Homo sapiens: one gene and its partners. The main gene of each other region encodes a partner of the protein of the gene in region 2 in a complex. Each region holds a gene or a part of one and is shown on either strand. Other genes may lie near its edges. The genes, in order: CD4, LCK and CD8A.

What was found.
Region 1: the proteins of LCK (region 2) and CD4 are in contact, whole or in part, in an NMR structure (PDB 1Q68), measured with the Homo sapiens proteins. Residues at the interface, in NP_001036236.1 of Homo sapiens: Glu15, Ile17, Val19, Cys20, Asn22, Cys23, Tyr25, Pro26, Ile27, Val28; in NP_000607.1 of Homo sapiens: Ala429, Arg431, Ile435, Leu438, Leu439, Lys443, Thr444, Cys445, Gln446, Cys447.
Region 3: the proteins of LCK (region 2) and CD8A are in contact, whole or in part, in an NMR structure (PDB 1Q69), measured with the Homo sapiens proteins. Residues at the interface, in NP_001036236.1 of Homo sapiens: Cys20, Asn22, Cys23, Tyr25, Pro26, Ile27, Val28; in NP_001139345.1 of Homo sapiens: Arg212, Arg213, Val214, Cys215, Lys216, Cys217.

The regions. Positions count from the first base shown.
Region 1 is NC_000012.12:6,782,841-6,793,646, reverse strand, and holds the start of CD4 (T-cell surface glycoprotein CD4 isoform 1 precursor), read right to left. Parts: upstream 4,120-10,806; 5' UTR 3,985-4,119; intron 1-3,984. UniProt on the Homo sapiens protein: Integral membrane glycoprotein that plays an essential role in the immune response and serves multiple functions in responses against both external and internal offenses.
Region 2 is NC_000001.11:32,253,069-32,263,376, forward strand, and holds part of LCK (tyrosine-protein kinase Lck), read left to right. Parts: intron 1-10,308. UniProt on the Homo sapiens protein: Non-receptor tyrosine-protein kinase that plays an essential role in the selection and maturation of developing T-cells in the thymus and in the function of mature T-cells. Plays a key role in T-cell antigen receptor (TCR)-linked signal transduction pathways.
Region 3 is NC_000002.12:86,787,914-86,798,600, reverse strand, and holds the start of CD8A (T-cell surface glycoprotein CD8 alpha chain isoform 1 precursor), read left to right. Parts: upstream 1-7,687; 5' UTR 7,688-7,775; coding exon 7,776-7,824; intron 7,825-7,919; coding exon 7,920-8,273; intron 8,274-8,850; coding exon 8,851-8,961; intron 8,962-9,167; coding exon 9,168-9,278; intron 9,279-10,040; coding exon 10,041-10,071; intron 10,072-10,687. UniProt on the Homo sapiens protein: Integral membrane glycoprotein that plays an essential role in the immune response and serves multiple functions in responses against both external and internal offenses. In T-cells, functions primarily as a coreceptor for MHC class I molecule:peptide complex.

The DNA of each region.
Region 1 (10,806 bases), on a different chromosome or scaffold from region 2:
AGATAGATACAATTTTGTTTAAACCGGGGAAGTAGGAAGAAAAGAGGTCAGGAAGGAGGTTTCTGAAAAAGGAGGAAGGGAGACTAGCCACCAGTGATGGTGAAGTGTTTACAGGTTAGCATGCAGATGGGAGGCATCTAGGGGAAGGCTGCAGTGAGAAGAGTAGAATAGGAGTAGCCTCATACCAAAGAGTGGTTCCCACTGTCCCCCATCCCAGACTGACTGGGTCCTTGGTGAGCAGGGGATGAAAGAGGGGAAGTCTCCATAAACGATATCCCTTCTCTGGGGTCCAAATTCAGCTTACCCTGATAAGATGCCTGGGGAAGACTAGAGGCATTCTTGACCCTTCCCCATATGGTGGCTGTTTTGACTCCCCCAGCTCCATGGTCCTGAGGTATGTGCAGACAGCCACCTCCCTGCCTCCAGCTCCCTGTTCTGCCTCATCTCACCCCAAGGCTCTGCTAAGTGGAGGAGGCTGTGGGTTTCCAGCATGCTTGCTTTGGTGCTTTGGGCTTCCGCTGCCACCCCAGAGATCTGGCCTTTGATTCCCATACTCAGCGTCCCCAGAGGTGTCTTACCCTAGTACGGTAGCATCCTGTATACCAGCACTCCGAGAGAGGCTGGGAGGGCTCTCTGGTCCCTCAAGCCCTGGCACGTCTCTCTCTCTCTTTCTGTCTCTCTCTCTCCCTCCTTGCTTCTCAGCTCACATCTGTGCATTTCTGTATCTATGCTTCCCAGCCCCCAGCTTATGCCCCCAGCCTGCAGCTCCCTGTGTCTGTGTCTGTCTTCCTCTTTGCCTCATATACCAGGCGGCCGTGCTGGCTCTCCCGGGCTCCCCTGGAATGCCCCTTGCCTCTTCTCCTTTTTCAGCTTCCCCTCTCAGGCTGCCACTAAGCTCTAGCTCCTTCCGGTCTGTACACAGTCCTCCTGGCCTTTGGCAGCAATGCAGACCCTGGACAAGCTTTGATCTGTGGGGAGCCTGCCGAGCACGCCTGCAGCCCAGGGTGGATGTGAGGGAGCCGGCTGCAGGGTGGGAGGGACACATGGACAAAGGGAAATGGACAGAGTTCCCCAGAATGCACAGAGCCTCAAGGGAGGAGGGGAGGGAAAGATGTGGGAGAGAGAGACCTGGAGCAGCTTGTTAAAGCAACAGCTATGCACACACAATCCACAATCACACACAAAGCGCAGGGTAGTACAAAAAAAGAGGAAAAGAAGAAATTCTGAGAAGCAAGACAGATGCACAGAGCATAGATCCAAAGTGAGGCAAAGAGAGACTGAGAAAGAGAAGAGACCAAAATGGCAACACACACCACGCACTTTCTCAGAGCCTTGAGGTTCCTGCCGCCCTCACCCCTGGCCCCCAGGGATGGGATGAGGGGCGAGGCTTGGGAGGGTAAGAGGGCCCAGCTCCACCACAGCGAGAGTCTGTGGTCCCACAGGCACTTTTATCTTCTCCCCATAACCCCCAAGCAGCCCACTCAAGCCCAGCCGCGGGATGTGCCCCACCGCGTTCACCCTCTCTACTGCTGACTAGCTTCCTATAAACTTCCTAGAGACTGTGACCCCTCTAAGGAACTCTTGTGGTTGGTGGCTGCAACCTCCGCCATCCTCTTCTTCGCCTCAGACACCCACATCGGGGGAACCGTGCCCACCCTCCTTCCCTCATCCCCTCAAAGGTACAGAACAGAGCTCAAACTCAGAGCCTTGCAAACCCAGACCCCTGCCCACCTACTTCTGATTCCCCACCTTCATCAAAGTTATTTTGAGACAGGGCCTCACTCTCGCCCAGGCTGGAGTGCAGTGGCACAGTCAGGCCTCACTGCAGCCTCCGTCTCCCAGGCTCAAGCAATCCTCCCACCTCAGCTTCCCAAGTAGCTGGAACCACAGGCACACACTACCATGCCCAGCTAACTTTTGTGGGGTTTGTAGAGATGGGGGTTTCACCATGTTGCCCAGGCTGGTCTCAAACTCCCAGGTTCAAGCCATCCTCCTGCCTCGGCCTCTCAAAGGGCTGGGATTACTGGTGTGGGCCACCACGCCCGGCCCATCACAGGTATTTCATTCAACAAACATTTATTGAGTGTCTAAAATGTGCAAGACTGGCCCAGTATGGTGGCTCACGTCTGTAATGCCAGCACTTTGGGAGGCCAAGGCGGGCGGATCATTTGAGGCCAGGAGTTTGAGGCCAGCCTGTCCAACATAGTGAAACCTGGTCTCTACTAAAAATACAAAAAGTAGCCGGGCGTGGTGTTGGGCTCCTGTAATCCCAGCTACTCAAGAGGCTGAGGCAGGAGAATCGCTTGAACCCAGGAGGTGGAGGCTGCAGTGAGTGGAGATCACGTCATTGCACTCCAGCCTGGGCAAGAGAGCGAGACTCCGTCTCAAAAATAATAATAAAAAATAAAACGTGCAAGACAATTGGTCTAGCCAATTGCCCTCAGCACCACCCCGCCATTACGGCCAGGGTCAGAGCCTAGGGCTGCCCCCAAGCTCTGTCTAGCACCAGTGGTGGGAGGAGTTTTTATCTAGATATAGACCTCTCCTATGTAAGTGCTCCCACATTGAAAGAGGGAAATCATCTCCCGAGTGTCTCTAACGCTGTCCTCAGGGGCTCTTTCATCTGACTTTGAGGGCGGCGGCCATTTTGTATCAGCCTACAGCATCTGATACAGCACAAGGAATTATTGGTCAAAATGTGAAGTAGCAGTGACTTCCCCCATCAGGCCCTGCTCTTAGCCTTGCCCCGATAAAAATGTCCACCACAAGAGCAGGGCATTCAGGAAGCACTATCCCACTCAGAGTGAAATCTTTGAATTATTGAGAACAGGGCCTTTCCGTTTTGAGGGATCAGAACGTACCCCAGGAAACCTCTCTCCCAGAAGAAGCCTATGAGGGGAAAGCAGAGGACACTGGGGATAGCACGGCTTCAAGGCCATGAGGTCTCAGGGGCTGGAAAGGTCTGAGGGCGGAAAGGCTGAGATGGCACAGGGCTTCCCTTCAGGAGGGACAGTGAGTCCTCACTCTCCCTCACACCCTGCCAGGCCCAGGAGGGGCTGCACATCCTTCTGTAACTCTCCCGGCCTCATGAGACCCCTACCACCAATTCTTTTCGAATCCGTTTCTTAAATGACATATTTATCTAAAGATATGTATCTGCAACTTTTAGGGCAATTCATACGCAAAAGCTCAGTTTCAACACTTTCTGAGAATTTTAGCTTTCCTATTTCATGAATCATTTTAAAGCTAACTAGAGTAGAAGTGCCTTTAGACATTGTTCAAAAATCTTAAAAGAGCAAAGAAGCAGACAAAAATTTAAAAATACACACAGAAACACAAAAGGTAGTTAAAAGAGACTATTACATAGATCATGCGACTTATGAAATGCTGCAAGTATGATATTTGGTGTCAATTTTTGGAGATTGTCCCGTTAAGGAAAATTGGTTTTGCAAGAATTTTCTCTAGACTAGATTCCACTTCTTTTGCTCTTTTTCTTGTTTTTATGTTTTTCCTCATCATTTCTTTTTTATAGGTTTCCTCCCACCTTATATTTATTTATTCTTTCTAATTTTTTCCCTCCCCTTCTTCACTCTTTTTCTCCTCTTTTCCCCTCTTCCAGTCTTCTCCCCTCAACTGCCCACGACTAGTTGCCTTCCACGCCTTTCCCAGCCTGGGATAGTCTCCAGTCTTCACTCCCTCTCTGATCTTGCTATTTAGGTCACTACTCCTCTAAGGAGCACCCATTGCTCTGGACACTGAGCTGTGCACGCTGGGGCTGCAGAGAGGAGTCTAGCACAGTCTCTGACCTCTGGAAGCTCACAGTTCCAGTGGGAAATCGCTGCTCATGACCAGTTCCAAGAGAAATGCAAGAGAAGGTGGCCAGAGCTGTGGGCAGACAACTGGGCAGAGCACATTCCTGTGCATCTGCCCCACGTTCCCCTCCCTCTCAGCTCCGGGGAAGGAAGCCGAGTCTGACCACCTTACCTCTGGGCTTGCGTCTTTCTTGCCCGCTGCTTCTCAAACAGGCGTATCTGTGTGAGGACTTGGAGCTCTGCAACCAGGAGCCCAGTGGGGAGGGTGCTTTGTTCCTTCTGCAGAGTCGTGCTTAAATGAAGAGAGACAGGAAGCCCGATGGCAAGGCTCCTCCACACCCTAGGCCTGGGCCGGCCCCAAACGTCACCAGCTGGAGCTGGGTTCCCCACCCCCCAGGCTCTCAGGGAACATGTCAAAGTGAAAATGCCAAAGTCAAGGGAAAAAGTTAAGCAGAATCAGGCTTAAATCAGGAGTCAAACTGTCACTGCCACTGTTAAGCGGCAAGAAAAAGATGGCAAGAAAGATTCCATTAGTGGTAGCGCCATGTCTGACCAGGCTGTGGGGAAAGAAGTGGGAGGCAGTTGGGGGCATATGGGAACAGCAGTGGTAAGCCCACAAACAGCTCCTTGCTCTGGGGCCCTGAGGGCATGTGTCCAGTGGGTGCCCCAGGGGTATCTGTGGAGGCTTTATAGGTGGCCCAGTGTGGAAGAGAGGGCGTGGGCTGAGCAGAGAATATCTGAGACACCAGGAGTGACTGTTAACCAGGCTCTGTTCCTCTAGGCGTCTCTGGCCAGGCCTCAGGTGCTTTCCTCTAGCCCGAATCTACCATGAACTCTCTATGTGAGTATCCGTCTGCCCATTGGACATCTCCACTGGGAAGCTCACCGGACATAGCAAACTCAACACACATCCCCAACTATGCATACCACCTGCATACTACCACCCTCCAAACCTGCTTCTCCAGGCTTCTCACTCAGTGAGGGGCTCACCATCCACCAACTTGCCCAAGCAAAATAAATTGGGTGTAATCTTTGACACCCCCTTCACCCAACTTCTCCCACGTATTTATTTACCAGTTCCTGTGGATGTTACCTTCTAAATGGCTCCAAAATCTACCCAAGTCACTCTGCACTACCACTACTGCCACCATGCCAATCCAAGATGCCAATATCATCCCTTGCTCGGACAACAGCTCCTGCCTCCTCACTGGTCGCCATTCTCCATACCACAGCCCAAGTGATCATTTAAAGATGCACATGTGAGTGTGCGTTTTCCAGTCTGAAAAAAGTGGGGCTGGGAGTGGTGGCTCATGCCTATAATCCCAGCATTTTAGGAGGCCGAGGTGGGGGGATCGCTTGAGCCCAGGAAGTTGAGGCTGCAGTGAACCGTGATTGCACCACTGCACTCTAGCCTGAGTGACAGAGTGAGAACCTGTCTTGAAAAGAAGAAAAGAAAAGAAAAGAAAAGAAAACTCTAGTTCAGCTTGCGACTCCAACAATTAACACAAGTACCCCTATTTGACAGCATTGTACTTCATCTGTAGCATATAGTACTGTGTGCTACTTCTCATTTCATGACACACCGTACTCAAGGGTTGAGATTTAATAAAATTAGTATTTACTGCTTCATTAAAGGCATTCTATATATATATATATATATATTTTTTTTTTTTTTTTTTTTTGAGAGGGAGTCTCACTCTGTTGCCCAGGCTAGAGTGCAGTGGCGTGATCTTGGCTCACTGCAACCTCTGCCTCCCGGGTTCAAGCAATTCTCCTGCCTCAGCCTCCCAAGTAGCTGGGGCTACAGGCATGCGCCACAATGCCCAGCTAATTTTTGTATCTTTAGTAGAGATGGGGTTTCACCATGTTGCCCAGGATGGTCTTGATCTCTCTTTTTTTTTTTTTTTTTTTTGAGACAGAGTCTTGCTTTGTCATCCAGGCTGAAGTGCAGCAGCATGATTTCGGCTTACTACAACCTCCGCCTCCTGGATTCAAGCCATTCTCCTGCCTCAGCCTCCCGAGTAGCTGGGATTACAGGCACCCGCCAACATGCCTGGCTAATTTTTGTATTTTTGTAGAGACAGGGTTTCACTCGTTGGCCAGGCTGGTCTTGAACTCCTGACCTCAGGTGATCCTGATCTGCCCGCTTCGGCCTCCCAAAGTGCTGGGATTACAGGCACGAGCCACTGCGCCCGGCCTCATTAAGGGCATTCTTAAGTAAAAGTGGCATTAATTTTTTTTCTTTTTTTACTGTAAGTACCTGGCAGTGAAGAATGCAATGACTATCATATGGTTTGGCACCACTGCCTTCATTTATGCTAAGGCAGCAGTTTTATCCAGATTGTTTTTGCAACATTATTGCAATGTCAACATAGTGACAAAGGAAAATAACATCCTGTATTTTTTTATGAAAATAGCTTGACCTTGAAGATCCCCTGAAAGGGTCTCAGGGACTCCCAAGGGTCTGCAGGCCACACTTCACTCTGAGAACCACTGATCTAGGTAATTTTTATTCATTCTTCAGATCTCAGCTATCGCTTTAGCTGTCCCCAAAGTCTATTTTCTCCTTCTTGGTAATAGAACCCTCAATTTTTAGCTGAGCTCTTAGCTACCCAGATTTAAAATATACTTCCCAGCCTCCCTCACAGCTGGATGTGTCCAAGTGACTCAATTTTGGTTAATAGATAGAAGTGAAAGTATTAGGTGCAACCTCAGAGTTGCTCCTCAAAGTGGGGAAAATGTATCCTCCTCAGGCCTTCTTCCTTCAGACTAGAAAGCAAACACCCTCCCTATTGTTCACAGCCAGTCTGCTTTTCTCATTTACATTACCTGGCAGGCTCTGGTAGGCATTGATGTTTTGAGCCCTGCTCCATTCATTCATGTACGTAGTTAAGCGTGTACCAGCCCAAGGCACTCTGCTAGGTAGCTGGGGATGTGATGTTGAAGAAGACAGATATGGTCACCACTCCAGCTTATGACATAGACACTAAACAACGAACAACTTCATTACAATTCGACAAGCGCTACAAAGGAAAAAGCACAAGGTGCTGGGAGATCTTATCACAAAAGAACCTTCTTTCAACTGGGAGAATTGTCTATCGGTAAGCACTGGGTTCTGCTACAAGCAAAAGAAAACCCAAAATAATAGAGGCTTCAACAAGATTGAAGTTATTTTTCACATGTAGGAAGTGTGGAGGTGGGTGGTGCAGAAGAGAGGGAGCAGCACGCCGTCCTCCAGGGCCAAGATTGGGGCTGTTTATATTTTGTTGCTCTACCATTCTCCTGCACAGGACTTCCTCCCCAGAGTCTCAGAGGATACTCAGGTTCCTCAGTTGAAATCAGTTTTCCTTGTGATAAGATCTCCCAGTCCCCTGTGCTTCTCCCTTCGTAGCAATTTTCCAGTTGCAATGAAGTTATTTGCTGCTTAGTGTCTAGCTCACAGGCCAGAGCGGTGACCGTGTCTGTCTTAGTTAGCACTATGTTCCCAGCACCCTCACAGATGCCTTGGCCCTGGAAGACCCTTAATGCTTGTTTAATATTTTCCTAATATATTAAATTTTATTGATATTAAATTTATTGCGGTAAAATACACGCAACATAAGATTTTCCATTTTAAGCTTTTTTTTTTTTTTTTTCCAAGACGGAGTCTTACTCTGTCCCCCAGGCTGGAGTGCAGTGGCACAATCTAGGTTCACTGCAACCTCCACCTCCTGGGTTCAAGCGATTCTCCAGCCTCAGCCTCCCGAGTAGCTGGGACTACAGGTGCCCGCCACCACGCCTGGCTAATTTTTGTATTTTTAGTAAAGACGGGGTTTCACCATGTTGGCCAGGCTGGTCTCGAATTCCTGACCTCAAGTGATCTGCTCACCTTGGCCTCCCAAAGTGTTGGGATTACAGGTGTGAGTCACCACACCCGGCCATTTTAGGCATTTTTTAATGTACTGCTCTGTGGGACTGAGTACACTCACATGGTTGTGTAACCATCTAGAAATTTTTCATCTTCCCCAAATGAAACTCTGTACCCATTAAATACTGACTCCTCATTCTAACTCCCTGCAACTCCTGGCTATTGAATAATATTTTTTTTTCTTTTTTCTTTTCTTTTTTTTTTGGAAACAGAGTCTTGCTCTGTCGCCGAGGCTCGAGTGCAGTGGTGTGATCTCGGCTCACTGCAACCTCCGCCTCCCAGGTTCAAGCGAATCTCCTGCCTCAGACTCCCGAGTATCTGGGATTACAGGCGTGCGCCACCAAGCCTGGCTAATTTTTGTATTTTTAGTACAGACAGGGTTTCACCATGTTGGCCAGGCTGGTCTCGAACTCCTGACCTCAAGTGATTCTCCTGCCTCTGCCTCCCAAAGTGCTGGGATTATAGGCGTGAGCCACTGCACCAGGCCAAATAATTTTTGAATGGATAAATAGAGAAGTATGGACAAGAGCAGGAGAGCAGGGCTACAAATGTAAATGCTTACAGGAGCCCCCTAGGTAGTGCAAATGAGAAAGGTACACTGGTGGTGACCAAAAGGGAAGGGTAGGGACTGGGGGAAACCAGAGAGTACTTGCCTCAGCTAGTTAAGGGCAGCCATTCCCTGCATAGCTGTCTGAGTTGACCGTAGAGGCTATACTGGCATGTGAGCCTAGAGTTGCCTGCTCTGCCAAAATTTCTAGAGAAGGTGAAAACCAGACATTTATGTAATACCTCCTGATTTTAATATTGGTAACAAATTTTTTCAACTTGTCGTGACACTGGGTAGAGCAAACAGAGCATTCCAAGGGCTGGCTCTAGCTTTGGGCCCACCGGTTTGCAGATTCCAGACCCGATGGACGGTGTGAGAACTTGCAGCTCTGTGAGTCTGTGGCCTGGAAGTCAACGGTCCTGAGAACCTGGCTCTCTCTCTGGGGTTTCCAAACAGGAAAAGAAAAAAGGAAGAGAGAGGGTGAGTTTATAGTAAACATTTGGCATTGTTGTGTGCTTTATGTGGTTGTATCTTTTATTTAATCCTCATGAGAGTGATAAGACATAGGTATTATTGTCCAGGCCATACAGATGAGGAAACTGAGGCTTGAAGAGTTTTTTGTTTTCTTAGACAAGGTCTCGTTCTGTCACCCAGGCTGCAGTGCAGTGGCACGGTCACAGCTCACTGCAGCCTCAACCTCCAGGGCTCAATCTATCCTCCCGCCTTAGCCTCTCAAGTAGCTGGAACTACAGGCATGTGCCACTGTACCCAGCTAAATTTTTTTTTCCCCTAGAGATGGGGTTTTGCTATGCTTCCCAGGCTGATCTCAAACTCCTAGGTTCAAGCAATCCACCCACCTCAGCCTCCCAAAGTGCTGGGATTACAGGCATGAGTCACACTGTGCCTAGCCGAAGAGTTTCAGTTGTCAAAGGTCTCAGAGCTAGTAACCACAGCTGGTGGAACCGGGATTTGAATTCACCCGCTTGGACCCCAGTTTCTGGGTGGTCCCCCTCATTGCACTGCCTCTCCTCTGCATTAAGAAGGTCCAGGACCAGGCATGGTGGCTCGTGCCTGTAATCCCAGCACTTTGGGAGGCCGAGGCGGGCGGATTGTGATGTCAGGAGATCCAGACCATCCCGGCTAACACGGTGAAACCCCATCTCTACTAAAAATACAAAAACAAAAACAAAAACAAACAAACCAAAAAAAGAAGGTCCAGGCGGGGCGTGGTGCCGAGTGCCTGTAGTCTCAGCTACTCAGGAGGCTGAAGCAAGAGGATGCCTTGAGCCCAGGAGTTCTGGGCTGTAGTGCACTATGCAGATCAGGTGTCTGCACTGAGTTCAGCTTCAGCGTGGTGACCTCCCGGGAGTGGGGAACCACCAGATTGCCTGAGGAGGGGTGAGCCAGCCCAGGCCGGACACACAATGGGTCACAATTTCCATGCTACCCATGCTAATCAGCAGTGGGATCGGGCCTGTAAATAGCCACTGCGCACCAGCCTGGGCAACATAACGAGAACCCACCTCTAAAAAAAAAATAAAAAATAAAAAAAGAAGAAGAAAGGCCAGGATGACAGCTAAGAGAAGTCTTCTCCCTTAGCAGTGGAGGGAGGTATGAGGCCCACTGCCTCACCTGGAGCTTCTGAGGCTCAGCAGTGCCATGGTCCTCACATCTCTAGAGTGGTTTTCCATTTTCCAAGCACTTTCACATTCATTTGTACATGCCAGACCTTTTTGGTAGGTGTTGCTGTTACTATCCTTACTTTACAGAAGAAGAAATGGAAGTCAAGCTGTCTGCCCCCATCACATGTCTGAAAGCATGGAACAGGGGGAGTTCCAGAGGCTATTTTTGCTGCATGTATCCTGCCTCTCTAGGCTGTAGAACGGGAGGAGGCCAAGCCAGGGGAAGGAGTGATGGGGAAGAGAGAGAAGCCGGTGTCAGAGGCTACAGACAGAGTGCTGGAGACTGGATGATCTGAGAGGCCTAGGGCAGCCAGGGTTGCAGGAAAGTTGAAAGCCCCAGGTGCAACTCTGCGGTGGCCTCCTTACCAGAAGTATCTTTGGCAGCACTGACGCCCTCTGCAAAGGGGGCTGGGGGCAGGGTTTGAGGATGGGGAGCAGGGGAGGGGTCTTTGGGGCTGTTCTCTGGGAAGCAAAGTCTAGGAGCATCGATGCCATCTCTACCCCATCCACATTTCCCCTGGCTCCAGGACCACTTTTTGCCACTCTCAGAGGGTGGTTCTGGGCCTCCCCTACCCCACGGGAAGTTTGAGTAGGCACGTTTCAGAGCTCAGCCCGGGCTCAGACAGCTGACACCTGCAGCCCCTTGGAGAAACTGTCAGCCACAGAGTGGAGCAGATAGAACCGACCCCACCCCAAAGCAATTCCCTTCAAAGGAAGAACCCCACCCTGGGGTGGGCCTGTGCGGGGGACCCTAAGCTCCTTGATCTCCTCCTTTGAAGGAGGGATAGCAGCAGGGGCTCAGGCCTGAACCCTAACATCTCTACCTGGTAGGGGAGGTGGGCAGGGAAATTTCTGGGC
Region 2 (10,308 bases):
AAGAGGCAATAATCAAGCTGGGCACGGTGGCTCACACCTGTAATCCCAGCACTTTGGGAGGCTGAGGCGGGCAGATCATTTGAGGCCAGGAGCTTGAGACCAGGCTGGCCGACATGGTGAAACCCTGTCTTCGTTAAAAATGCAAAATTAGCCGAGCGTGGTGGCAGGTGCCTGTAATCCTAGCTACTCAGGGGGCTGAGGCAGAATTGCTTGAACCCGGGATGCACAGGTTGTAATGAGCAGAGATCGAGTCATTGCACTCCAGCCTAGGCAACAGAGCGAAACCCCATCTCAAACAAAAATGCCTCCCGGGTTCAAGTGATTCTCCTGCCTCAGCCTCCCAAGTGCTAGGATTAACAGGCGCGCCACCATGCCCAGCTAATTTTTGCATTTTTAGTAGAGATGGAGTTTCACTATATTGGCCAGGATGGTTTCGATCTCCTGACCTCGTGATCCGCCCACCTCGGCCCCCCAAAGTGCTGGGATTACAGGCATGAGCCACCGCACCTGGCCAGCACATAGTAGGTGTTTAAGGGAGGTGGGGCACTCCCTCCCCCTGCAAATGATGCACCAAAGGGAGGGCTGTCCACACCCAAATTATGCCCACTCAGCACCTTGGTGGGCCAGTGAACCACCCATTCCCTCACACTTGTGGTGTGGCTTTGCAAATCAGCCTGTTTCCTGTATACAGTGTGAGGAGTGTGAGAACTCAGGCAGGCTGGACTCTGAGCGGGGCCATGGGATCTACTTTAGAAGAGGGTCTCTCACGCAGCCACACACAGACACACACACACACACACACACACAAGCCAAAACACCATACATATCATGGGAAAATCTACGTGTACAGATGTGTTCAGAGGCAGGGCAGGGGCTACACATAAAACACAGACTACATCCTATAACTCCATGCACACACCCACGAGCTGATGGCTTCAAGGCCAAGCTCAATTCAGTGAAAGTAATTCTCAGTGGGGTGGGGTGGGGTAGGTGGTGAGGAGCAGGTGGGACCAAGGTACCATCCAGTAATGGGGCCTCTCACAATCAACCTCAGTGTTGATTTTAAAGTATCTGGAGCTAGGGGTTTGAGGCTGCAGTGAGCTGTGATCGCTCCACTGCACTCTGGCCTGGGTGACACAGCTAGATTCTGTCTCTAAAAAATAAACACGGCAGAGTGCAGTGGCTCACGCCTGTAATCCCAGCACTTTGGGAGGCCAAAGCAGGTGGATCACCTGAGGTCAGGAGTTCGAAACCAGCCTGGCCATCATGGTGAATCCCCATCTCCACTAAAAATACAAAAAATTAGCCAGGCATGGTGGTGCATGTCTGTAAACCTCCACCTCCCAGGTTCCAGTGATTCTCCTGCCTTAGCCTCCCCAGTAACTGGGATTACAGGCGTGTGCCACCATGTCTGGCTAAGTTTTGTGGGGTTTTTTTGGTTTGTTTGTTTTTTGTTTTTTTGAGACAGAGTTTTACTCTTGTTGCCCAGGATGGAGTGCAGTGGTGCGAGCTTGGCTCACTGCAACCTCCGTCTCCCTGGTTCAAGTGATTCTGCTGCCTCAGCCTCCCGAGTAGCTGGGATTACAGGCATGGACCACCACGCCCGGCTAATTTTGTGTTTTTAGTAGAGATGGGGTTTCTCCATGTTGGTCAGGCTGATCTTGAACTCCCGATCTCAGGTGATCCGCCTGCCTCAGCCTCCCAAAGTGCTGGGATTACAGGCATGAGCCACCTCGCCCGGCTGTTTTTGTTTCTAATTACAAAATTAGCACATTGCTGTTTTAAAAACACTCAAACAGGCCAGGCACAGTGGCTCGCACCTGTAATCCTAGCACTTTGGGGGGCCGTGATGGGAGGATCACATGGGCCCAGGAGTTTGAGACCTGCCTGGGCAACATAGGCAGACCCCATCTCTATTTAATTATTTAAAAAAAAAATAAAATTTAAAACTCAAACAGTAAGAGGCATATAAAGAAATACAAGAAATGCAGCCTCCTCCAATCCCACTTCTGGGATATGCCCATCGTGAAAAATTTGGTGTGTGTCCTTCCAGATTTTCCCATGTATGGCTGCTGAAAAACATGGAGGTTAAGTCTAGTCTCTGCAGGCTGGCAGACCGGGACTCACTTCACAACTCCACTGCTCATTTGTTTGTTATGAGGCCTCAGACAAATCATTTTACCTGGTTTGGGCCTCAGTCTTTGCATCTGTAAAATGGGGATAATAATAGCACTTCATAGGATTATTATGAGAATTACATGAAATAATGCAAATAAAGGCTTAGCACAGAGCTTATTTAAAAGAATCCCCTGTATACATATGTCAATGCAAATAGGCATATACTCTGCATTCTGTTCTGCAACTTGCTTGCCATGGTGTATGCGGGATGTCTTTCCGTGTCAATACATGTCAATACAAAATACCTCATCCTTTTAACTGTTTCACTAAACGTTAGCTTGGTAAATGGTTAACGGTGGTGATTTTGAAATGTTACTTCCTGGCAAGTGTTGCTGTCATGTGCGGCCATGTTGTCGGCAGTCACAGATATTATTGATCAGTGAGCTAACTACAAGCCTTATAGCCTCCTGTGAAAATGAAGTGACCCACCAGAGGGGCACCCACCTCTGTCACAGAGGGCAGGGCCAAATGCATGGGACGCTCTCTGTCTGCTTACTTCTGCATCCTCAGCTCTAGGTCAGAATCTGGCACATAGGAGGTACCCATTAAATTTATTTTTTTTTTTTTTTTTTTTGAGACAGTGTCTCAGTCTGTTGCCCCGGCTGGGGCACATGGTGTGATCATAGCTCACTGTAACTTCACACACCTGGGCTTGAGTGGTTCTCCCACCTCAGCTTCCTGAGTAGCCTAGGACTACAGATGTGTACCACCATGCCCAGCTAATTATAAAAAAATTCTTGGCCAGGCACAGTGGCTCATGCCTATAATCCCAATACTTTGGGAGGCTGAGGCAGGAAGATCTCTTGAGACTAGGCATTCAAGACTAGCCTGGGCAACATAGCAACACCCCGTCTCTATTAAAACATAATAATAACAATACAATTTATTTATTTATTTATTTAGTTATTTATAGATGGAGTCTTGCTCTGTCACCCAGGCTGGAGTGCAGTGGCACTATCTCAGCTCACTGCAACCTCTGTCTCCGGGTTCAAGCAATTCTCCTGCCTCAGCTTCCCAAGTAGCTGGGACTATAGGCACATGCCACCAAGCCCGGCTAACTTTTGTATTTTTAGTAGAAATGGGGTTTCTACTAAACTCCCAACACTTTGGGAGGGTGAGGTGGGTGCATCATCTGAGGTCAGGAGTTTGAAACCAGCCTGGCCAACATGGTGAAACCCTGTCTCTACTAAAAATACAACAAATTAGCCAGGCGTGGTGGCAGGCGCCTGTAATCCCAGTTACTTGGGAGGCTGAGACAGGAGAATTGCTTGAACTCGGGAAGTGGAGGTTGCAGTGAACCGAGATCGTGCCATTGCACTCCAGCCTGGGCAACAAGAGCAAAACTCTGTCTTAAAAAAAAAAAGTGTGTGGAGATAAGATCTCACTATTTTGCCCAAGCTGCACTCACACTATGTATGGTCTCAAGCAATCGTCCTACCTCACCCATTACATTTTTGTCAATAGGCCAGCTCCTTTAATCCACAAGCAGCAGCCTAAGCCCAAAGTTCTCTCTTGCAGTGTGGCATTTCCTAAAATATGACCTGTACACCACTCAGGTGTGTAAGTGATTTTAGGGGATAATGGATGACCATTTACGAATGTTAATTTATGTGTTTATTTTAGTGTGCGCTGTTGTTTCACTTCTATTTATGTCTCATGATTCTGGTTTTCCATTTATGGTAGTAAAGTTTCCATTTTAGGTACATATATCAAACGTGAAAAGGTAGCCCGTGGAAGTGCCAAAAATCATGAAGGAAAATGAAAATGATCAATCATTTTAGCCTGAAAGATGTTTAAGGCCAGTGTCTATGTAGCAAGCACTATGTTAAGCATTTTATTATATGAGATCATCTATATATCACGTATAATGCTCACCACAGCCAGCCTTAGATGCAAGTCTTATTTTTGTCATCATTTTGCTGATGAAGGAACTGAGGGAAGTGCAGAGGTTTAGTAAGCTGCCCAACAACCTTCTGCCAGTAAGTCTTGTTTTTTTTTTTTTTGTTTTTTTTGTTTTTTTGAGACAAGGTCTTGCTCTGTCGCCTAGGCTGGAGCGTAGTGGCCCAATCTTGGCTAACTGTAGCCTTGACCTCCCCAATCTCAGGTGATCCTCTCACCTCAGCCTCCCAAGTAGCTGGGACCACAAGCATGGGACACAAAGTCCGGCTAATTTTTGTATTTTTTTTGTACCGACGGGGTTTTGCCATGTTGCCCAGGCTGGTCTCAAACTCCTGGGCTCACGTATCTGTCTGCCCACCTTAGCCTCCCAAAGTGCTGGGATTATAGGTGTGAACCACCACGCCTGGTGCCCTTCTGCCAGCAAGTGATTGGGAGAACCTGGATTGAATTTGGGTTGCCATGGCATGGACATGGTGAACTGAGCTTCCAGAGCTGCCAGACTCCCAGAAACGTTTATAAAGCAGTGTGGATTGCCAAGCTGTAAGTAAGGCTCCATCCTAATAAAACTGTCCATGATACAAAAAGCACACCAAAGTACCCAAGGGAGCGGACTCAGTAAAAGGGATTATCAGGTATATTCACGTTACTGGTTGGGGGACTTCTACTAAAATACCAATTAGAATAATTGCTCTATATCCCTTATTTATAGCGATACTTGACTAGCAGAATCAGTTCTATGTTCAAGACACTCCCAATTTGTGAAAATAAATCCATTTTGTTTGCATCCAAAATAATGCTTTTTTTTTTGTTCTCTCTGTGTCGAGAGGCTACAGAGTTCATTCAAAAAAGGTATTAAGCCAGGTGTGGTGGCTTGCACCTATAATCACAGCATTTTGGGAGGCCAAAGCAAGGGGACTGCTTGAGCCCAGGAGCTCAAGACCAGCCTGGGGAACATAGGCAGACCCCGTCTCTACAAAAAATAAAAAAATTAACTGGGCTTGGTGGTGTGTACCTGTGGTCCCAGCTACTCAGGAGGCTGAGGTGGGAGGATCACTTGAGCCCAGGTGGTTGAGGCTGCAGTGAGCCATGATCATGCCACCGCACTCCAGCCTGGGCAACAGAGTGAGATCCCATCTCTAAAGGAAAAAAAAAAAAAAGAGAGAGAGCGGAATTAAAGCCAGGTGCAGTGGCTCCTGCCTGTAATCCCAGCTATTCGGGAGGCTGAGGTGGGAGGATTACTTGAGGCCAGAAGTTTCAGGTTGCAGTGAGCTACAATCATGTGCTGTACTACTCCAGCCTGGGTGACAGAGTGAGATGTGAGACTCCATCTCTTTAAAAAAAAAAAAAAAAACCAGGCTGGGCGCAGTGGCTCACACCTGTAATCCCAGCACTTTGGGAGGCGGAGGCAGGTGGATCACAACATCAGAAGTTCGAGACCAGCCTGACCAACATAGTGAAACTAAAATTAGTTTCTACTAAAAAACACGTCTCTACTAAAAATACAAAAAATTAGCTAGGCATGGTGGCGGGTGCCTGTAATCCCAGCTACTCGGGAGGCTGAGGCAGGAGAATCGCTTGAACCTGGGAGGTGGAGGTTGCAGTGAGCTGAGATCACGTCACTGCACTCCAGCCTGGGCAACAGTGCGAGACTCCGTCTCAAAAAAAAAAAAAAAAAAAACCCAGCCTGTGTGACGTGGTGAGACCCTGTCCCTACTAAAAATACAAAAATTATCCAGGCGTGGTGTTGCCCACCCATAGTGCCAGCTACTCAGGAGGCTGAGGTAGGAGGATCACCTGAGCTATGGGAGGTCGAGGCTGCAGTGAGCCATGATTGTGTCACTGCACTCCAGTCTGGGCCACAGAGTGAGATACCATCTCAAAAAAAAAAAAAGTATTATGTATTTAAACAAATATGAAAAAGGAGGTAGCCCAGGACACATCCCTGATTTACCCACTAGAAATTAATTACTGACGGGGCACGGTAGCCCATGCCTGTAATCCCAGCACTTTAAGGGGCTGAGGCAGTGGATTGCTTAAGCTCAGGAGTTTGAGACTAGCCTGAGCAACATGGCAAAACCCTGTCTCTACAAAAATTAAAAAAATACAAAAATTACCCGGGCCCTCTCATTCACAGCTTCTCAGGTAAAAAAAAAAAAAGAAAAAGAAAAAGAAAAAAAAAATAGCTGGAGGCTGGGTGCGGTGGCTCATGCCACACCTGTAATCCCACACTTTGGGAGGCCAATGCAGGCAGATCACTTGAGGCCAAGAGTTCTAGACTACCCTGGCCAACATGGTGAAACCCCATCTCTACTAAAAATACAAACATTAGCCAGGTGTGGTGGCACACGCCTGTAGTCCCAGCTCCTCGGGAGGCTGAGGTAGGATAATTGCTTGAACCTGGGAGGCAGAGGTTGCAGTGAGCCGAGATTGCACCACTGCACTCCAGCCTGGGCGATAGAGTGAGACTTCATCTAAAAAAATAAAAATAATAATAATAATAATAATGATAATAATAATAGCCAGGCGTGGTGGCACATGCCTGTTGTCCCAGTTACTCAGGAGGCTGAGGTGGGAGGATTGCTTGAGCCCGGGAGGTCGAGGCTTCAGTGAGCTGTGATTTTGCCACTGCACTCCAGTGGCACAAGAGAGCAAGAGAGCAAGAGGGCAAGACCCTGTCTCAAAATAAAATAAAATAAAGAAAGAAATTATTTGCCATGCCTGCTAGCCCTGATTCTTGATATTGCTTGATATTGTCATGAGGGTTCTATGTGGGCATGAATAGCTAAGGCTCTTTATTGAACATGGGCAGCTTTGTCATTAATCAAGTCTGGGTCGGGGCAAAGGCGAAGAAAATGTTTTAAATGATTCATTTTTTTTTAATTTTATTTTTATTTTTATTTTATTTTATTTTATTTTTGAGACAGAGTCTTGCTCTGTCGCCACGCTGGAGTGCAGTCCCGGGTTTAAGCAATTCTCCTGCCTCAGCCTTCCGAGTAGCTGGGACTACAGGTGTGCACCACCACGTTCAGCTAATTTTTTGTATTTTTAGTAGAGATGAGGTTTCGCCATGTTGGCCAGAATGGTCTCGATCTCTTGACCTCATGATCCACCCACCTCAGCCTCCCAAAGTGTTGGGGTTACAGGTGTGAACCACTGCGCCTGGCCTTTTATTTTTATTTTTACAGAGACAAAGTCTCACTATGTTGCCCAGGCTGGTCTTGAACTTCTGAGCTCAAGTGATTTTCCCATCTCGGCCCTAGGATTACAGGCGTGAGCCTCCAGCCCTGGCTATTCTAAATGATTTCTGACAGATTTTGCCATGAGGTGGTCCAGAGTACAACAATGGTCTGCAGTAGAATAGTCTGCTTGTTCTTTTTTCTTTTTTACTTTTTGTGCTCTACATGTTCAGAGAAACTGAACTAAAGAAATGATCCCTAAAGGAAGTATAGTCTTGTCTGCTGTTTTTTGTGTTGCTTTGTTTGTTTTGTTTTGTTTGAGAGAGGTTCTTGCTCTTTCCCCCAGGCTAGAGTACAGTGGTATGATATTGGCTCACTGCAACCTCAACCTCCTGGGCTCAGCGATCCTCCTACCTTAACCTCCTGAGTAGCTAGGACTACAGGCGTGCACCACCACACCTGGTTAATTTTTGTATTTTTTGTAGAGATGAGTTCTCACCATGTTGCCCAGGTTGGTCTTGAACTCCTGGCCTCGAGTGATCCTTCCACTTTGGCCTTCCAAAATGTTGAGATTACTGGCGTGAGCCATTGCATCCGACCACCTGCCTGTTCTTGATGTAAAGCATTGGCCCAAGAAACTCAGCCACGAAGCTGGCACACATTTTGGACAAAATGTTCAATAAATCAATAGGTCTATAGTTGGAGGAGAAAAAATGTTAACTTAAAAATTTTTTTTAATTTAATTTAATTAATTTTTTCTTTTTTTGAGACAGGGTCCCCTGTCGCCCAGACTGGTGTGCAGTGGTATAATCACGGCTCACTGCAGCCTTGACTTCCTGGGCTCAGTGATCCTCCCACTTCAGCCTCCTGGGTAGCTAGGACTACAGGCAAATGCCATCACGCCATCATGCTTGGCTAATTTTTTTTTTTTTTTTTTTTTTTTTGAGACAGAGTCTCACTCCATGGACCAGGCTGGAGTGCAGTGGCGTGATGTCCACTCACTGCAACCTCCGCTTCCCCAGTTCAAGAGATTCTCCTGCTGGCCGGGCATGGTGGTGGCTCAAGCCTGTAATCCCAGCACTTTGGGAGGCCGAGGTGGGCGGATCACGAAGTCAGGAGTTCAAGACCAGCCTAGCCAACATAGTGAAACCCCGTCTCTACTAAAAATACAAAAATTAGCTGGGCCTGGTGGAACGTGACTGTAATCCCAGCTACTTGGGAGGCTGAGGCAGGATAATCACTTGAACCTGGGAGTTGGAGGTTGCAGTGAGCCGAGATCGTGCCACTGCTCCCTAGCCTGGGCGACACAGTGAGACTCTGTCCTCTGTCTCAAAAAAAAAAAAAAAAAAAGGGCCAGGTGTGGTGGCTTACACCTGTAATCTCAGCACTTTGGAGGCCGAGGTGGGCAGATCATGAGGTCAGGAGTTTAAGACCAGCCTGACCAACATGGTGAAACCCCGTCTCTACTAAAAATACAAAAATTAGCCGGGCATACTAGGCGCATGCCTCCAATCCCAGCTACTCCGGAGGCTGAGGCAGGAGAATCGCTTGAACCTGGGAGGCAGAGGTTGCAGTGAACCGAGATCACACCATTGCACTCCAGCCTGGGCAACAGAACTAGACTCTGTCAGAAAAAAAAAAAAAAAAAAAAAAAGAGATTCTCCTGCCTCAGCCTCCCAAGTAGCTCAAGTAGCTGGGACTACAGTCACGTGCCACCACACCCAGATAATCTTTGTATTTTTAGTAGAGATGGGGTTTCACCATGTTGGCCAGGCTGGTCTCAAAATCCAGACCTCAAGTGATTCACCTGCCTCGGCCTCCCAAAGTGCTGGGGTTACAGGTGTGAGCCACGGCCCCCGGTAGCCGGACGCCGGCCACTAATTATATAGCTGAGCATGGTCGGGTGCCGTGGCTCACACCTGTAATCCCAGCACTTTGGGAAGCCGAGGCAGGTGAATCACTTGAGGACTGGATTTTGAGACCAGCCTGGCCAACATGGTGAAACCCCATCTCTGCTAAAAATACAAAAATCAGCTGGGTGTGGTGGTGCGTGCCTATAATCCCAGCTACTTGGGAGGCTGTGGCAGGAGAATCTCTTTTTCTTTTCTTTTTTTTTTTTTTGATGGAGTCTAGTTCTGTCACCCAGGCTTGAGTGCAATGGCGCGATCTCGGCTCACTGCAACCTCTGTCTCCTGGGTTCAAGCGATTCTCCTGCCTCAGCCTCCTGAGTAGCTGGGATTACAAGCATGCGCCTAGTACACCTGGCTAATTTTTGTATTTTTAGTAGAGACGGGGTTTCACCATGTTGGTCAGGCTGCTCTCGAACTCCTGGGCTCAAGGAGTCCTACTGCCTCAGCCTCCCAAAGTGCTGGGATTACAGGCGTGAGTCACCATGCCCAGACTCCTTCTGGTCTTAGTTTGATAAAGATTGCTGAGTAGCCAACATGATCTAACCAGGTTAATAAATGAGGTCAGTAAAAAGAAAATCAAAATTAAAGCTTAATATAAATTTCTCATTGTCTGAAAGAAAGAAGTGGAGGAAGGGAGAAAAAAAAAAAAAAAAAAACAGATGAAAGGAATCCCCAGGGCTCCCAGAACCAGCAATGAGGGCAGATTCTGGGGTGAATGAAACAGGACATTCTTTTCTCCCAATTTAGGAATCCAAGGTCACGAGTAAGAATTTCATAGATTCGAGGCTGCCTCTGACTAGGGCATGTAATGTTCTCAGTCAAACTTAAGGCTGCCCGTGGTCCACAGAACATTTTGTGATGATTATAAAAAGGCCACAGGCCAGGTCTGGTGACTCATGCCTGTCATCCCAGCACTTTGGGAAGCGGAGGTGGGCAGGCCACTTGAGGTTGGGAGTTCGAGACCAACCTGGCCAACATGGTGAAACCCTGTCTCTACTAAAAATAATAAAAATTAGCGGGCATGGTGGTGCATGCCTGTAATCTCAGCTACTTGGGAGGCTCAAACAGGAGAAATTGCTTGAACCCAGGATGTGGAGGTTGCAGTCAGCTGCGATTGTGCCACTGCACTCCAGCCTGGGGGACAG
Region 3 (10,687 bases), on a different chromosome or scaffold from region 2:
CAGTGAGATGAGATCGCACCACTGCACTGCAGCCTGGGCAACAGAGCTAGACTCTGCCTCAAAAAAAAAAAAGAAAAAGGAAAAGATACATTATGCAAACGGGAAGCATAAGAAAGTTGTGTTTCTGGCCGGGCACAGTGGCTCATGCCTGTAATCCCAGCACTTTGGGAGGCTGAGGCAGGTGGATCACCTGAGGTTGGGAGTTCGAGACCAGCCTGACCAACATGGAGAAACCCTGTCTCTACTAAAAATACAAAATTAGCCGGACGTGGTGGTGCATGCCTGTAATCCCAGCTACTCGGGAGGCTGAGGCAGGAGAATAGCTTGAACCTGGGAGGTGGAGGTTGCGGTGAGCCAACATCGTGCCATTGCACTCCAACCTGAGCAACAAGAGGGAAACTCCATCTCAAAAAAAAAAAAAAGAAAGAAAGCTCTGTTCCTTATGAATAAAAGGTAGACTTCACAACAAAGTATTACCAGAGGCAGAGGTAAAGACGAACATTTCATAATGATAAAAGAGTGAATTCATCCAGAAGGCACAATTCTAAATGTGTATGCACCTAATAACAAAGCTTCAAAATATAGGAGACAAAATATGAACTGAATTAAAAGGAGAAATAGACAAATCCACACTCATTGGACATTCGGCATCCTTCTCTCTCAGCTCCATAGGAAAGGTTAACAGATTAAAAATTAAAAAACTTACCATCTTTCTGTCATAATTAATGAACAAAACTCCAAATTTAGCTTTTCATGAGAAGGCGGGTGGGGTGGTACTTGGGAGGGTACAGTTTTATCTGTAATGTTCATGTGAAGGAAATGCGACAAAATGCTAACACTTATAAAGAGTGGGCATTTTATATTATTTGACATATTGTTCTATGTTAAAATGTTTTCAAAACTTTTTTTTAAAAAAGTGAATAGCAGAAATATTTAAATGAGTGAATAATGAATGAAGTTCAGAAGTCAACATCACTTCATCTGACATTGCCCTCCACAAGTCCCCATGCTGCCCCTACCCTCCCTTGTTGGCCTTTCTCCTGTGAGTCCTCCTCATCTTATCATCCACCAATGGCAAACATGTGGGACATCCTCATGTGGGTCAGGGGCAGACATGAGCTTACAATCTCTACCTGCCACAGGCTTTGATGTCCTCTCTGTGCTTCTCTTATAGCCCAAACCTCCCCTGTGAAGTTCTTCCACCTTCTCAAGCCCCATTCTGAATTTCCTGCACTACCTGGATTCCTTGCCAATGTTTTATTTCCTGCTCTTCAATACGAGCCTTCCCTGAAGGTTCCATATACTCTTCTGTATGTTCTTTCCACACCACCTCCCTTTGCAATGACACCCACTCTCACAACTTATCACCTCCTTCCCAAGGCTACATCCCCAGCCCTGACCCCTCTTCTGAACTCAAATCCTGGCTCTCCAGTTGCATTCAGAACGCTTCTGTTTCAGTGTTACTGAGATTAAAGATCCAAAACAATTTTGTTACCGAAACACCGGGGGATCCATCTAGGTCCTTCTGCTCACCTCACAGAAAGCCAATCACTGAGACAACAAGTATTGCCAAGGAAGAAGAATTTAGTCAGGTGCTGCAGCCAAGGAGATAGGAGATCAGTCTCAAATCCATCCCTCTGACCTGACTAAAATTAAGGGGTTTATATAGCAGGGAAGACATGTAATCATGTGTGGGAAAACAGGAAGTTGGGAGGAGTAAGGAAAAGGAGTTGGACAACAGGAAACAGGAGGTTAGTTAGGCCATCATACCAGGTGAAGAGTCTGACGTCTTATTGTTCATAATAAGTGATCTGGTGAGTTTCAGCTCATTGCTACCATCTGGGAGGCCTGATAGTTGGTTTCCCTAGAAAGGAACTCAGATAAGACAAATGTAACTTTCTCAGGTTTTAAGAAGGCAAGGATCAATTTATATGTTTATTCAAAGAAACCACAAACATCAACTCTATGGGATCATTGGATCAGTTTTACAGTAAGCATGTGTCAGCACCAAGGGAGGGGATGACAGAGAGTCAATGCAAGGTGTAACCAAAATGTGTATATTTTTCCCCATTACAGTTCAGCTTCTTACCCTCTCTGCCCAATCCAAACTGCAACAAGGATTCTCCCAATTATATTTCAAACATCCTAGCTTCCTGGGATGCCCTCTTCTCTTTACTCTTGATGTTTATAATTCACCTTGATATGTGCAAAGATGTATATGTTTTTATACTTGGCACTAAGAGTATTTTTGATCTGAGAATGTTTGTCTTTAATTGTGAAAAATTTTCAGCCATGCTTTCTTCCCATATTTCTTCTCCACATTCCCTTTGTTCTCCCCTTTCTGAAATCCTATTAAACACTTCACCATGCTAATATACATCTCAACAGCTTTTTCAAACTGCTTCTGTCTTCATCTCCCTGTGTTGCATTCTCTATGAATTTCTCAATGCTAGCTTCCAATTCATTAATTATCCCTTCAACTATGTCCAACCTAGAGTATATCCTTGTTTAATATGTAGAGTGTTCATTTCCAGTATGCTCAGTATTTATCATCTTCAACTGTTCTTCTTTAATTTCTGCATTTTCTACATTTGTTGTTCTCTTTGTTTTAAACATTTTTCAAATTGTTCAATAATTTGCCTCTTTTTGGAAGTGAATTCACATTCCACTTGTTGAGTCTTTTTTATGTATACTTTGAATTTCGAGTGTGTGTGCAGGGTTATCTTGAATAGAAATTTTTGAAAATCTCTTCCTCTCTTTACTCTCTCTTTTCCTGAGTTTTTTAAAGTAGCCTCTGACTTTCCAGGGCCCACAGTCAGAACTAGGCCTTACATGGGTGGCTGTGGGCTCTCTTTCAATCAAGAGAAAATCAGATCCAAATCCCTGTTTCAAGCAGAGAGCCTGGCTCCAGCCTTCCTCTATAGGCAAAGCACTGTGAAACTCTGTTAGCTGAAGGAGTCAAACTCTTGGTGCCTCTACACTAAGAACAGACCCTCAAGACCCAGGCCCAAGAATGGTTTGCTAAGAACAGATCCCAGCAAGCCAGCCCCTGATTCCAGCCATTGTCCTGCAACTACATCCTTGAAGACGTTTATCTTGCTTTTGAGTACATCTGCCTTCTCCCCTTCCTCCTCTTCTTTTGTTTTTAACTATACCATTGCTATATGTTAAAGCATGGTATCAGCTGATCTTGATCAGACATATCAAATGCCTCATTCTAAACAACCTCTCTCCTAATTCTTCCTTTATCTTCAAACCCAACTATATGTGAAGCCTTTCCTGACCACTCTTACTTGGAATGAACTATCTAAGCCTCCTCTGGTCTGCTGTACCCTACTTCTACCTTCCTTTAGCTTTTACTGAGCAAGAATTTCTTGAGTGTGTGCCACTCAAGTGTGTGCCAAGCCCTCTGTTTGGCACCCTGGTGTAAACATGAGAGGGACAAGGCTCCTTCCTCAAGGGACCAAGGGTTTGGTTGTCAAGCTGGACAGGCAAACAAACCATTGTGCTCCAGTCTGCAGATACCCAAGGTCCGGGTGACACAGAGAAGAGAAGGATGTGGTCTGTACTGTCTGGGAGTGGGAGGGGGAAGGAGCTAAACCCCACAGGAAGGAGATGCTTGAGCTGGGTCTTAAGGGAGAGGAGTTTGGTAAGCAGAGAGCAGAGGTGAGAACATTCTTGGCTGAGGGAATAGCATGTTTAATGGCTCTGAAGTGGAAAGGACTAGGGTCCGCTTGAGAAATGAGAGATGCGGAACCTAGGAGGAGTGAAGAAGGTGACAGACAAGAGGACAGAGACTATGAAACCAAGTGTGCAGGGCCTCACAGGCAACATTAGGGATCCCCGACATTCTACTAGGGACACCAGGAAGTCCTTTCAGGTTGAAGCAGGGGGTTGGCATGATGAGATTTTCTCTAGAAGGGACCAGAGCAGAAATGGGGTTGGCCAGTTAAGAGGCCATTGCAAAAGTCCAGGAAAGAAGGACAGCAGCTAGATGAACTTGGGGAACTCGGGGTGGAGGAAAAGAAAGGTGACAGAAGTGAGGCCAAATTGATTGGTATTTCCAATTAAGATAAAACAAGCCCTGATAACTCTAGAGTTTCTAGCCCTGGACAAGCTAACTCCTTCCAAGAACAGTAACATCTCCATAGACCTGAATTGGCGATGGGGACACAGCAGGCAATTTCCCAGCCATGATTCCAAGTTGTCCCTGCAGTTCATGTCTTAGGAGCAGTGGCACAGAACCCTGATGGATTTCCTACCACTGCTCTGCCCGGTTTTGCATTTTGAATATGTCTTTAATCTACATTAAAGTTTTCCATTTCCATGGACCAGTTTAAATCAGCATAGAAACTGGTTACTATCTTACTCTATCTACTTCTGGATATTTTTTTAAATAAGGGGCTTGCTTAAAGGAGTGCAGTCATTCACATTTCTTCATGCCATCCCAAGTCAGTGCTACAGTGTGGGGTTTGGGAACTTACCTGGCAGTGATGGACAGGCCCAACCCAGCCCTCTGCACACCTGGTCTACAGAAAGTTTCTCCAGAACTTGTGCAATTGCATCTGTTCTGCCACTGCAAGGCGGATGTCATTGTGGTCACATCGAAAATCCACCACGTTCTGCAAAAAATATCACTGGGGTCACAAAGCCTCCTTGATGGGTTTGACATGTTGCCTTATCCTCCCCACCCCAACCCCCATGGTGCTCTGTACAAAGGGGCTGCCACCCCACTGGCTGACACTTTTCTGAGCTGCAGGGCTAGAAGGCCCCCAAGCTGATTTCCGTGAGACTAAGATGGAACTAGTCTATTTTAAAGCAGTACACCCCCAAATCTGGCCATCATCACACTCAGGGGCCTGATTCTCAAGATCCAAATAGGTGGAGGTTGACTCTGGCCCCCTCAGTGCTTCCACCACTGGGCAAGTGCAGTTTCGTGTCTAGCCATCTTCCTTACCACCCTGTTGATTGTAGCCTTTGGCCAGCAGGGCCATTTGACACTCCTGATACAGTGCTGGTGGTGCTGAGCAAAATGGCAAACTACCATCTACAGCAAGAATTGATGTGTTGGTGGCCTGTCTGGACTTGATTGCTTCCTTGTCTCCCTCATTCATGTGAGTTGAGGGACAGCACTGTGTCTACACAGCGAGGGACCCTCATACCATGCACACACACACACACATGCATACATCGATAGGCCAGTTATAACCATCATTGTAAAGGTGTTTTCTTCCCCAACTCCCTCATCTCCCATTTGAAAAAGCTGCAGGTACTGGTGCAAGCCCTCAGTGATACAGATACATTATATCTACCACAGCCTTGCTAGTGTTGCAATAATGAGAAATCGCCTAAATGTCCACTAACAGCAGAATTAAATTATGGAACACCCATATATAATGCACCCATTTATAAGAATGGGGTGGATCTTCATCTGCTGAACGCTCTCCTTCTACTGTGAAACAAGATAGGTTGCAAAAAAATATTTATCTCATACAATCCCATGTGTCTAAGATGATGTATAAACATCTGTTTATGTACAGATAATATCTAAGGGACACATTCAACTGTAACAGTGGTTTTCTGTGGGGAGCAGGTGACAGTGAGGAGAGTTGAGACAGGGAACTTTGTGTTTGTTTTCGTACAAGAATATATTGCACTGTTGTCACTTAAAAGACATTTTTAAAAATTTCTGAATATAAAATGTTACATGTTCCATGCTAGAATAAGCATCTTGGATGCTTTGAGGGAGCTGGAAGGAGGTACTGAAATCAAAATAATTAAAAAAAAAAAAAAAAGCCCATCCAGGCCCTGATATGGTGGCTCACACCTGTAATCTCAACACTTTGGAGGCCAAGGCGGGGCAAAGCGCCTGACCTCGGGCATTGGAGACCAGCCTGGGCAACATGGTGAAACCCCATCTCTACCAAAAATACAAAAAATTAGCTGGGCATGGTGGTGTGCTCCTGTGGTCCCAGCTACTTGGGAGGCTGAGGTGGAAGGATCACTTGAGCCTGGGAGGTAGAGGCTGCAGTGAGCCGAGGTGGTGCCACACTGCACTCCAGCCTGGGCAACACAGCCAGACCCCATCTCAAAAAAAAAAATAGCAACAACGACAAAGAACCCATCCAACACTTAAGTTTGTACTTCACAAGGACAAGGAGAATGCAGTTCAACAAGCACAGCTCAGCCCATGCTGTGTTTCTGGGGATGGAGGACACATCATGAAGTCTCGGCATGGTCCTCGCCCAGCAGAACTAATGGGTGGGGCAGACACATGGAACACAGAATGCCAGGTGTCTTGTCTCTAGGATCAAGCAGTAGCAATGTGAGGTGCAGCCACTATGGGATTCAAAGTGGAAAGACTCAGAAACCCTGAAGAAATGGGAAGAGGGCATGCCACTGGAGCTGGAAGGTTTCAGGACAGCAACAGTCAAAAAGGAAAGATGAGCCTGTAGTCCCAGCTACTCAGGGGGCTGGGGTGGGAGGATCACTGGAGCTCAGGAGTCCCAAGGCCAGCCTGAGCAAAACAGCGAGACTCCAGTCTTTTTTATTTTATTTTATTTTTTAAAGAAACAAAAAGGAAGGGGACACACATGTGTTAGGGACAGAAAAGAGAAAACCGCCTCTACCCAAGCATTCACCCACATCACCCACACCTCCCTGCAGAGCACCCAGAGCTGGGGGTGAAAGAAATGAGGTCCAAATGAGACAGCACAGGAGCTGCCTCCAGGGCTTAAACAGACCAGCATTCCAGGCCGAGGGACCGCAAGTGCAAGGGCGTGAAAGCACAGAGCGCAGGGGTTGAATGACTTCAAGCCTGTGAAGCTGCAGCTGCAGGTGTATGGGAAAGGCAGGGCAGGGGGCTGTGCGGAGGCTGGGAGGAGCCAGCACCCAAGGGCTGGTCAACCAAGCTGGGGGTTGAATTTCCATCCAGCAATGCAGGCCATGGGAGGCTGCAGCAGTGACGCTGTCAGATCCCCTTTGTGAGAATAATAATTTTTATAACAACGTGGCTGGAGGACTGATCAGGAGAGAGACTGGTGTGAATTGAAGGCTGTTGCAATGGCTCCAAGAAGAGATGAGGCTGTGTGGTGAGTTTAGCCGCTGGATGAAAGGCCGGAAGAATGAGGTCAGCAGCGCACTGACACCGACACCCAAAGCTTCGGCTGCTGCCGCTCTCATGGAAATCTCCTGGGGGAAGGGAGAGGGTCCTTCCTCGGTGAAAACTGGGGCTGCTCTAGCGAGTTCCTCAGAAGCGGGCAGGTCGCTAGTTCCTCTTCCTTTTCAGCCCTCAGTGCCCATTTTGCCAATAAAAAGTCCCAAGGTGACAGTACAAGAGACGCCTTTAGTGAAGGCAAAGGAAGGGACACTCCCCTCCTTTGCTGCCTACTCTCGCCCTCACTTCTTGAAATCTTTGGTCTCCCTTCACCCACTCTGTCACTCTCACAAGACAACCATTTCCAAGGACTATTTCCAAGCCCTTTTCCTCATCCCCAAACCCGCAGTTTTCAGCTGCCCCCAGTTGCCTGGCCAGGCTGCCTCGACGGCCCTATTCACGGGCCCCAGCCTCCTCGCCGGGCTGGAAGGCGACAACCGCGAAAAGGAGGGTGACTCTCCTCGGCGGGGGCTTCGGGTGACATCACATCCTCCAAATGCGAAATCAGGCTCCGGGCCGGCCGAAGGGCGCAACTTTCCCCCCTCGGCGCCCCACCGGCTCCCGCGCGCCTCCCCTCGCGCCCGAGCTTCGAGCCAAGCAGCGTCCTGGGGAGCGCGTCATGGCCTTACCAGTGACCGCCTTGCTCCTGCCGCTGGCCTTGCTGCTCCGTGAGTTTGAGACGCCCGGGAAGGCAGGGGATGGGGCGGGCGGGGGGCGGGGGGCGCGGGACTGCGGGCTCAGCCTCGCTGCTTGCCGCCTGCAGACGCCGCCAGGCCGAGCCAGTTCCGGGTGTCGCCGCTGGATCGGACCTGGAACCTGGGCGAGACAGTGGAGCTGAAGTGCCAGGTGCTGCTGTCCAACCCGACGTCGGGCTGCTCGTGGCTCTTCCAGCCGCGCGGCGCCGCCGCCAGTCCCACCTTCCTCCTATACCTCTCCCAAAACAAGCCCAAGGCGGCCGAGGGGCTGGACACCCAGCGGTTCTCGGGCAAGAGGTTGGGGGACACCTTCGTCCTCACCCTGAGCGACTTCCGCCGAGAGAACGAGGGCTACTATTTCTGCTCGGCCCTGAGCAACTCCATCATGTACTTCAGCCACTTCGTGCCGGTCTTCCTGCCAGGTCCGCGCGCCGGGTTGCGGCACCTCTCCGCGTGGGGCTTGGGGTTCACCTCAACCTGTTTTCCACACCTGGGCCCTGCTTTCAAGCCTCTTAGCGCACCTGGAAGCGACTTAGATACTGTTCCCATTTCACAGACACAGCAAACTGAGGCTAACGCGAGGCTGAGTAGGGACTGGGGATGGCTTTTTACGTCCGGCCGATCTGGACTCGAGTTCGGATTCTTGTGTGATTCTGGGCAAATGACTTAAATTATCTGCGCCTCCGTTTGCTCGTGGGTAAAATGCGGACAGCAATCAACCCGCGCTCCAGGGTTGCTGGTTCAGCCCGGGAGAGAGGCCAGGTGCAGGGGAGCTGGCTCCTGCGCTCCGGCTCTGGGCGCCGGGTGCGCTGGGCTGAGCCGAGGCCCGAGCACAGGGGTCCGCGCGCATCCCGGGGTCCCCATCCTGTCTCCTCTGCTATCCCTTCTCCCAGGAAAACCGGGGGGAGGCGTCCCCGTGGGGAAAGGTGCGCGAGGCCGGGGCTGGGGCGCCTCCATAACCCCAGCCTGGCCCCCAACCACGCTCTGTTGCTCTTGCAGCGAAGCCCACCACGACGCCAGCGCCGCGACCACCAACACCGGCGCCCACCATCGCGTCGCAGCCCCTGTCCCTGCGCCCAGAGGCGTGCCGGCCAGCGGCGGGGGGCGCAGGTGAGGCGTGCGGGGGCCCGGGGCGGGGGCGGCACGCACCGCGGGGAGAGCCCATGCCAGGGACAGCCCTGATACTGTAGGTAGAGTCAAGGGCTGTCCAAGTGGTGGGAAACCGAGATCTGAGGCGGAGAGACGTTCCCGGGACGGTGGGGCGGTTGGGAGGTCCCGGGCCCTCTCCTAAATGTCGGCGTCTTTGGTGTCGTCAGTGCACACGAGGGGGCTGGACTTCGCCTGTGATATCTACATCTGGGCGCCCTTGGCCGGGACTTGTGGGGTCCTTCTCCTGTCACTGGTTATCACCCTTTACTGCAACCACAGTAAGTCCCGAGGAATCGCGGCGGGAAGGAGTCGGCCCCGCTCCTGCCCTTGGCTCTGCTAGCTCCAGGCGGACCTTGCGAGGGGGGAGCTTGGGGTTGAGTTTTCTGGGACTCCCGAGCTGCCCCGCAGGTACAGGCACTTCTTTCTGGGAGATAGAATGCGAGAAAGCCCTTCCCGCTCCTTGCGCTCTCGGAGAGGTTTTGGGAGACAAAGCCGCGTTCCCAGAGCCGCTGCAGCGGGTGTGTTCCGTCGACGAAGCCCGCAGCGCGCGCGCACATGTCTGGACACATGACAAACGCCCGCCGGGAGGGGGCCGCTGTGGCCGAGTCAAGTGCCCAGGAGGGTTAGTCAAAACCACCATCAGTTTGAGGTTCGTCCTTGGCCCTCTTCGGCGAACCGCCCACCCTGCTTTGGGTCCCATGCAAGAGAGGTGCCGGATCAGGTCTGCAGGCTCCCCGCTTTCGCCCGCGTCTGTAGTTGCAATTTTTTTTAATTGATGCTTGAGACGAAGGATGGATAAGAAGCCCTTACCCGGCTCTCAAGAGTTATAATCCTCAAAGAAATAGGGGAAAGGAAGGAGAATTCGTAGAGGCAATTCCCTATTTGCCTCATCCAATTTCAGCCCATGATCGTTCTGAAATGATTTTTTGTAAAACCAAAAAACAGCAGCAACAACAACAGCAACAACAAAAAATACACTGTCTTTGGGGACTATTGATGGATAGGGGCACTCACTTTTTCCCTTCTTTTTCCTTATCCAGGGAACCGAAGACGTGTTTGCAAATGTCCCCGGTGAGTCTCTTTTGAACTCAGCCTGCTCACCTTGGCCAGCCCTGGGGTGGGGTCCTGGTTTCCCCAGCAGCAAATAGTGGGAACTTTTCCCAGAGAGAGGTCATGGCCGTGAAATCCTGGGGCAGGGAGTCAGCCAGTTCCTGAGCAAAGAGAGGCCAAGGCTGGCATCTGGCCTGTGTCTTTGAGAAAAAGGAGGCCCGGGTTAGGCGGGTGCCAACAGCAGTGTGACTCCAGTAAATCTCCATCTTATTTGACCTGGCACTTCCAAAAAAAAAAAAAAAAAACCTGAGGGATTCCCCCAATTTATCCTAGCTCCTCGTAGGACCTGACCTCCTCTTTATTCTGATTATTCCATCTGGGTTTTGTTGTTTTCTTAAGAAAACAATTTTTTTTCCTACTTGGCTGGTCTAGTTTTTTGAGGGAGAGCCAATCTTTTATCAGCTGAACCAAAATAATAATGGCTTTGGTTGCTAACTTCTCTGTGTCATGTAGGACCTTGGTTTGCTGCCAAGGACTGGAGTAGAAAAAAGGGGAACGAGATGCAGGGACAATTGGCTATCTGGCAGCTCAAGTGACTGCCTCATCCAGTTTCAGCCCATGATCACACACACACACA